2 linked regions of the Homo sapiens genome follow. The protein of the gene in region 1 interacts with the protein of each later gene in a biochemical or structural test. Each region holds a gene or a part of one and is shown in the gene's direction. Other genes may lie near its edges.

Evidence for each region. Proteins that work in one complex are often made in the same cells at the same time.
Region 2: the proteins of SH2D2A (region 1) and LRRK1 form a complex in vitro, tested with the Homo sapiens proteins (one large-scale study listed by BioGRID).

Annotation. Positions count from the first base shown.
Region 1 is NC_000001.11:156,806,849-156,810,348, reverse strand, and holds part of SH2D2A (SH2 domain-containing protein 2A), read left to right. Parts: intron 1-541; coding exon 542-688; intron 689-858; coding exon 859-1,146; coding exon of another isoform or gene 1,147-1,212; exon of another isoform or gene 1,213-3,003; coding exon 3,004-3,171; 3' UTR 3,172-3,174; exon of another isoform or gene 3,175-3,500. UniProt on the Homo sapiens protein: Could be a T-cell-specific adapter protein involved in the control of T-cell activation. May play a role in the CD4-p56-LCK-dependent signal transduction pathway. Could also play an important role in normal and pathological angiogenesis.
Region 2 is NC_000015.10:101,051,678-101,055,356, forward strand, and holds part of LRRK1 (leucine-rich repeat serine/threonine-protein kinase 1), read left to right. Parts: exon of another isoform or gene 1-33; coding exon 34-283; exon of another isoform or gene 284-712; intron 713-780; exon of another isoform or gene 781-1,244; coding exon 1,245-1,411; intron 1,412-1,545; coding exon 1,546-1,743; intron 1,744-3,268; coding exon 3,269-3,546; intron 3,547-3,679.

The DNA of each region.
Region 1 (3,500 bases):
AGTTTAATGCAGCCAAGTGTGGTGGCTTACGCCTGTAATCCTAAGACGCAAGAAGGCTGAGGTGGGAGGATCACTTGAACCCAAGAGTTCAAGACCAAGCCTGGGCAACATAGTGAGACCTCATCTCTACAAGAAATGAAAACACAATTAGCCGGTGTGGTGGCACATGCCTGTAGTCCCAGCTACTTGGGAGGCTGAGGCAAGAGGATAGCTTGAGCCCAGGAGGTCAAGGCTGCAGTGAGCTGAGACTGCACCACCACACTTCAGCCTGGGCAACAGAGTGAGACTCTATCTTAAAAAAGAAAAACTTTAATGCTAGATATGGCCTGTGACCAGAGCTTACCACTGCCTCCATCCAACCCTGGGTCTCCCTGCCGTCACCACCCCCTCTTCCTCATCCAGGGAACCCAGCCCAGGCCAAATTTCTGTGCTCCTCCCCCTTCCCCCATCCTCCACTTAGACTGGATTATTTTGTCCTCCTGATCACCTCCCCCACCCCAACGCTCCACCGAGTGCCTCAGACCTCCTTCTTTCCCAGCAGACTCCTGAGCCTGCAGGACTTTCCCTGAGGACCGAAGAATCAAACTTTGGAAGCAAAAGCCAGGACCCAAACCCCCAGTACAGCCCAATCATCAAACAGGGGCAAGCCCCAGTCCCGATGCAGAAAGAGGGGGCCGGGGAGAAGGAGGTATTGGGCTGCAGGGGCTGAGGGAGTGGGAGGACAGGCCTGCGAGGGGGTGCAGGCAGCGGGGAGGAGGAGGGGCCTAGCGGGGGCAGAGGCTCAGGCTGGGAGTTAGGCTGGGGCTTTAACCCTGCCTCCCTCACCCCACTCCTCCCTGGCCTCACCTTCTCTCCCAGCCCTCCCAGCTGCTCAGGCCCAAGCCTCCCATCCCCGCCAAACCTCAGCTGCCCCCAGAAGTCTACACAATCCCTGTTCCACGACACCGCCCGGCCCCACGCCCCAAGCCCTCCAATCCTATCTACAATGAGCCTGATGAACCCATAGCTTTCTATGCCATGGGCCGGGGCAGCCCTGGGGAAGCCCCCAGCAACATCTATGTGGAAGTGGAAGATGAGGGCCTACCCGCCACCCTTGGGCACCCTGTCCTACGGAAGAGCTGGTCCAGGCCTGTCCCAGGAGGCCAGGTAAATGGGTATGCAGGGAAAGGTAGGTGCAAGAAGGTCTCCCTGCAGGTAGATGGGGGAAGGTGAAGAAGGTGTTCAGAGTGGATGCCTGGGGCAGGGTAAGGGGCAGAGGTGTGAGGTGATGTGGGAAGAACAGAATGATCCAGGCACCAGCCTCCCTTCTCCAGGCCCAGAGGCTGCCCCCTCTTCTCCCCAGAGTCGCTCAGACCTCATCTTTGTCAAGCCCCCATGCCCTCCTATCTCACACAGAAAACAGAGGCCCCCAGGCAGGGTGCCCCTCCACCTCCCACATCGAGGCTTTTTTGATCTGCGTCCATCTTGTCCTGCAGGCCCTCTTCAGACGCACCTGGGGCTGACCCCACCCCGTGCCTCTCTGGCTCTCTCCCTTGGCCTTCACGGCCCTGCTGTCCTGGAGAAAAAGAGCACTTGGGTTCCCTTATGTCATCTCAGTGAGCTCAGGGGAGGGGGACCCTGCTCTCCCAGCCTGCTTCTGTGTACTCCCTGTCTCCCTCTTCCTTCTCCCCAGCCCTAAGTCTTCTTGCCTACCCTTCAAGTCAGTACCTCATGCCATGGGTTAGCCCCAGCAGCCATCCCACCCTCTCCCTCGGCCTCTGCGGCCCTCCCAAAGCCCTTCCCCAGCCTCCCTCCTCAGACCCTTCCCCATCCTCCCTCCTTGCTGGTGCCCCAGGCTCCCTGCTCAGCCTGAGCCTGCTCGCGCTCACCCACACCCCTGCCAACGTCTGCTGTCCTAGAGCTAACGTCACCTGTCCATATCTCCGTCCAAACTTTTTTCCAAGCTTCTGGTCAGTTCCCCCCAGCATCCCTGAGCCCCTCAAACTCAACACGGCCAACAGCGCTCTCACCCTTGCCCTCCAAACAGCTCGGTCCCATGTTCACTGTCCTGATTGCTAACTCTCCAGCTACCCAGCTAGCCAAGCCAGAATCCCAGGGCTCCCTCAGCACAGCTCCCTCTTTACTCCCCCAGTAAGCCACTCATTCCTGCTGGATCTCTTCCTAAGTATATTTTTCCTTCCCCCAGCTCCAGCCCCCATCATTGGGGTCTGGCTTTGTCACCCAGGCTGGAGTGCAGTGGCACAATCATAGCTCACTGCAAACTTGAACTCCTGGGTGCAAGTGATCCTCCCACCTCAGCTGAGATTACAGGCTCGAGCCACCTCACCTGGCTCCCAAGAGCTTCTTAACTGGTTTCCTAACCACCATTCTTGCCACTTCTGATCCACTCTGCACCAAAGAGCCAGAATGGTCTTGCTGAAGCAGCTGCCTGGCCCATGAAGCACTCTAGACTTGGGTTGGGTGGGGGGTCTCACCTCCTTAGCCTTACCACCAGCCACTCCCATTCTCCTAGAATGATTCACATTTCTCTAAACTCACCAAGTGGTTTCAAGCCTCCTGGGGTTTGCACCCGCCAGTATCTCTGCCTATAGCAACTTCCTGCAACCTCATCCTCCCGCTGCCTGGCAACTTTCTAATCATCCTTCAAGACCAGCTTTCCCTTCTCAGAGGCCACCCCCTGTGCCTTACACACACCTGCCATGCCACTGATCACCTGAGACATCCATCTCCTCCCATCTCCTTCTCTCTGTCCCTTCCCTAGTTTAGAGTGTGAGTTCCCTGAAGGGAGGGGCTGGGACTTACCCATCTGTTTCCAAAGCACCCAGCCCAGTGCCTGGCACAGAGCAGGTGCTCAGGAGATGTTTGTTGAATTAATGAATGAGAGGAGTTTAGATACCCTCTCTGGAAGCCAAAGTCTGTTCAGATCAGATGTCTTGAGACTGCAAGTACACCTAGGAGGCAGAGGGTAGAGGGTGTGACCTAGAACTGTCCTTCTCTCTGCAGAATACAGGTGGCTCCCAGCTGCATTCTGAGAACTCTGTGATTGGGCAAGGCCCTCCCCTGCCCCACCAGCCCCCACCCGCCTGGAGACACACCCTCCCCCACAATCTTTCTAGACAGGTGCTTCAGGACAGAGGACAGGCATGGCTTCCCCTTGGGCCTCCTCAGTAGGCGGTAAGTCTGAGCTTGGTGAGGATAACTTGGAGCATCAGGTCCAGAGACCTTCACACACACCTGGCACACTTCTCAAGAAATGTGGATGGAATAAACCATAGGTGTTCAAAGCTGGAAAGGAGCTCAGCCATCATCTATTGCAAGGATGGCAAAGAGGTGTCATCTTGCATGCCAACTCCAATCCATTGGTCGTGGCTGCCTAGAGTGCTGCATTGGAAAGGATGTTAAGGTCATATCTGAACTCAGCAGAAAAAAAGCACATGATTGATTAGTGATGTCTGCCACGGGTAAGAGCGGGAGGATGAGCAGCATTACATTTGTCCTTA
Region 2 (3,679 bases), on another chromosome or scaffold:
TGTGAAGCTGTCTCCTGCTCTGTCCTTATTTAGCCCTGACAGCCACAGAGAGCGACGGGACGCCACTCATGGAGCAGTACGTGCCCTGCCCGGTCTGCGAGACAGCCTGGGCCCAGCACACGGACCCCAGTGAGAAATCAGAGGATGTGCAGTACTTCGACATGGAAGACTGTGTCCTGACGGCCATCGAGCGGGACTTCATCTCCTGCCCCAGACACCCGGACCTCCCCGTGCCGCTGCAGGAGCTGGTCCCTGAACTGTTCATGACCGACTTCCCGGCCAGGTATGCCCCGAAGGCCCCTCCCAGAACACAGTGCAGGTCACAGGGGGCGTTCCTCGCTGTGCAGTTGCCGAGTGATCTCCAGGAAGACCCCTCTGGGGCGGGCAGGTGCCCCGGCCATGGCTTCCCACCAATCTCAGTACCTTTTAGGTTCCCATCCTCGGCTGCCTGAAAGGAACCAGGCTGCCGGCTTTCCATTTTGGAGGCCTTGATAGGCCCAACTGGGAAGAGTGCTTTGCAAGTGCAGCCATCCTGCCTCCCCATACGGCTCCCCCTTCCCCTCGTAGCCAGAGCTGCTCTCTCCTGAGCTGCCTCTCCTTTCCACTCCTACCTCCCCACCAGCTCTAGGGCCAGCAGATAAGTGCAGCCAGTGCTCCTCAAGCATTCAGGAAGGGGAGAGAAGGGAGAGCTCCCACCCAGAGCCTTGTTTACCTTCTTTGTCAAACGCTGACTCCTGTCTGTAGCCCTAGCGCTGAGCTCCCACCCAGAGCCTCGTTTACCTTCTTTGTCAAACGCTGACTCCTGTCTGTAGCCCTAGCGCTGAGCCTTGGACCCCTCAAATCTGTTCTTAGAGTTTATTGTACCTATGCTAACCCAAGATCATAACTAGAGAGAGAATCGGGGAGGAAATAGGAAACGTCACCTTTCAGAAGAAAACTTCCAAAGGGGTCCTTTCTCTACGGCCACCACTTCTGTGGGGTTCACCCTGTGCCAGCCATCACCACCTCTGAGGCCGTTCCTGTCCTGAGAGCCCTCTGTACAGAGGAGACTGAGGCTTAGCAAGCCTGCATAACCTACCCAGGTGTGCTCACCCACAAGTGGCAGGGCCGGGGTGGCCCAGATCTGTCCAGCCTCACAGATGGCTTTGAACCATGACTCTCGGCCGTTGGGGCAAATGACCCAGCCCAGGACCCACCCGCATCAGGGCGGGGGGGATGTGGCTGATGCCGGGCGTGTGTGGCAGGCTCTTCCTGGAGAACAGCAAGCTGGAGCACAGCGAGGACGAGGGCAGCGTCCTGGGCCAGGGCGGCAGTGGCACCGTCATCTACCGGGCCCGGTACCAGGGCCAGCCTGTGGCCGTCAAGCGCTTCCACATCAAAAAATTCAAGAACTTTGCTAACGTACCGGCAGGTAAGCGGGTCCCAGGTTGGTGCTGTTTTTCTCAGACATATGCTGCCCGGGTCTAAGCTCTGTGCGGCCTTAGAGAGGCCTGAGGCTGCAGGCACCCCATGTCCTACTGGCTGACACTGCGCTGTCCCTGGCAGACACCATGCTGAGGCACCTGCGGGCCACCGATGCCATGAAGAACTTCTCCGAGTTCCGGCAGGAGGCCAGCATGCTGCACGCGCTGCAGCACCCCTGCATCGTGGCGCTCATCGGCATCAGCATCCACCCGCTCTGCTTCGCCCTGGAGCTCGCGCCGCTCAGCAGCCTCAACACCGTGCTGTCCGAGAACGCCAGAGGTACCGCGGCGCGCCGCCCCACCCGGCCCCGGAGACCGACAGAGCCCCGGGCGCCTCCTGCCTGGCACGGGGGGTAGAGCCTCAGGTGGCCTTGGCAAGCCCAGGGCACGCCCAACCCATGGCTCGTGTGACCATCCCCTGGCTGCGAGGCCAGGCTCCCCGCCAGGTCCAGTCACTAGGCAGAGCCTTGGCGAGGACGGGGGAGCGCACACTCTGGAGTCGGCTAAGACCAGGCTCTGCCGCGGTCCGGAAAGCCGCTGAGTTTATTTGCCTGTAAAAGGAGGATGGTAACAGGCCTCGCTGGGAGGGCACCGAGCACGGGAGCTGCATTGAATCACTTTCCCAACTGCACACGTACACGGCTGCTGAGACTCTGAGACCGCAGGGTCAGTGGGACCATATTTTAACATAAAATGTCGAAGTAATTTACCTTGAGAAAAGAGCAGCTAAACTCCAGAGTGGCCAGAGGGTGAAAGGTAGCTGTCTTTTGACTAAGGAAGAAGAAATGCTATGAAAATCAATCACTTCTGCCTCAATGGAAGATAATTTTTTAAACAGAATTCTTTACTTTTTTTTAATACAGGATCTCACTTTGTTGGCCAGGCTGGAGGACAGTGGTGCAATCTCAGCTCACTGCAGCTTTGACCTCCTGAACTCAAGCCATCCTCCCACCGCAACTTCCCGAGTAGCTACAAGCACACGCCACCACACCCAGCTAATTTGTTGTTGTTGTTTGTAGAGATGGCCTTTCACCCTGTTGCCCAGGTCGTTCTCGAACTGTGAGCTCAGTCGATCCCCCCACTTTAGCCTCCCAAAGTGCTGGAATCACCGGCATGAGCCACACGCCCAGCCAAACAAAATGCTTCTACTTGCCTCTCACCCCTTTACGTAGGACAGCCTTGACCTGAGGTGAACTCTAGAGATTTCGAACCCTTGCTCATTCAGCAAAATGCCAGCAATTCCAGGAATAAGATATCAGGAATGAAGCTACAGCGATGAGCATTTCTATCCTAAATACTGTTTCACTTAACCAGGCCATTCTCTGTCCTTTATGGCAGTCTGGTGAATAGTGAGAATGTGTCAATGGAATATAAAGTATCTAAGGGCCAGGCGCAGTGGCTCACATGTGTAATCCCAACACTTTGGGAGGCCCAGGCGGGCAGGTCGCTTAAAGCCAGGAATTCAAGACCAGCCTGGCCAACATGGTGAAACCCCATGTCTACTAAAAATACGAAAATTAGCCAGGCATGGTGGCACGCGCCTATAGTCCTAGCTACTCAACTTGGGAGGCTGAGGCAGGAGAACTGCTTGAACCCTGGAGGCAGAGGTTGCAGTGAGCCAAGACCATGCCACTGCACTCCAGCCTGGGTGATAGAGGGAGACTCTGTCTCAATAAAAGAAAAAAGAAAAAAAATCATAAAGTATCTAGGGAGATCGGAAGACAAAAAGACAGTTGTTATCATGATAATTTGATTCTATCAAAACTGAAATTTTGATACATTTGAAAATTGTTTTTCTTTGCAAGATTCTTCCTTTATACCCCTGGGACACATGCTCACCCAAAAAATAGCCTACCAGATCGCCTCGGGCCTGGCCTACCTGCACAAGAAAAACATCATCTTCTGTGACCTGAAGTCGGACAACATTCTGGTGTGGTCCCTTGACGTCAAGGAGCACATCAACATCAAGCTATCTGACTACGGGATTTCGAGGCAGTCATTCCATGAGGGCGCCCTAGGCGTGGAGGGCACTCCTGGCTACCAGGCCCCAGAGATCAGGCCTCGCATTGTATATGATGAGAAGGTACGTGCCTGGATCCCCTGGCCCAGCCCCACAGTGTAGGAGCCCAGCCCTCAGGCTAGCCGGGCAGTCCTGGAGGCACCTGAAGCTTCGGGGCTCAGCATCCCCAAAAGCACATTTTTCTCACTCTCCCTTG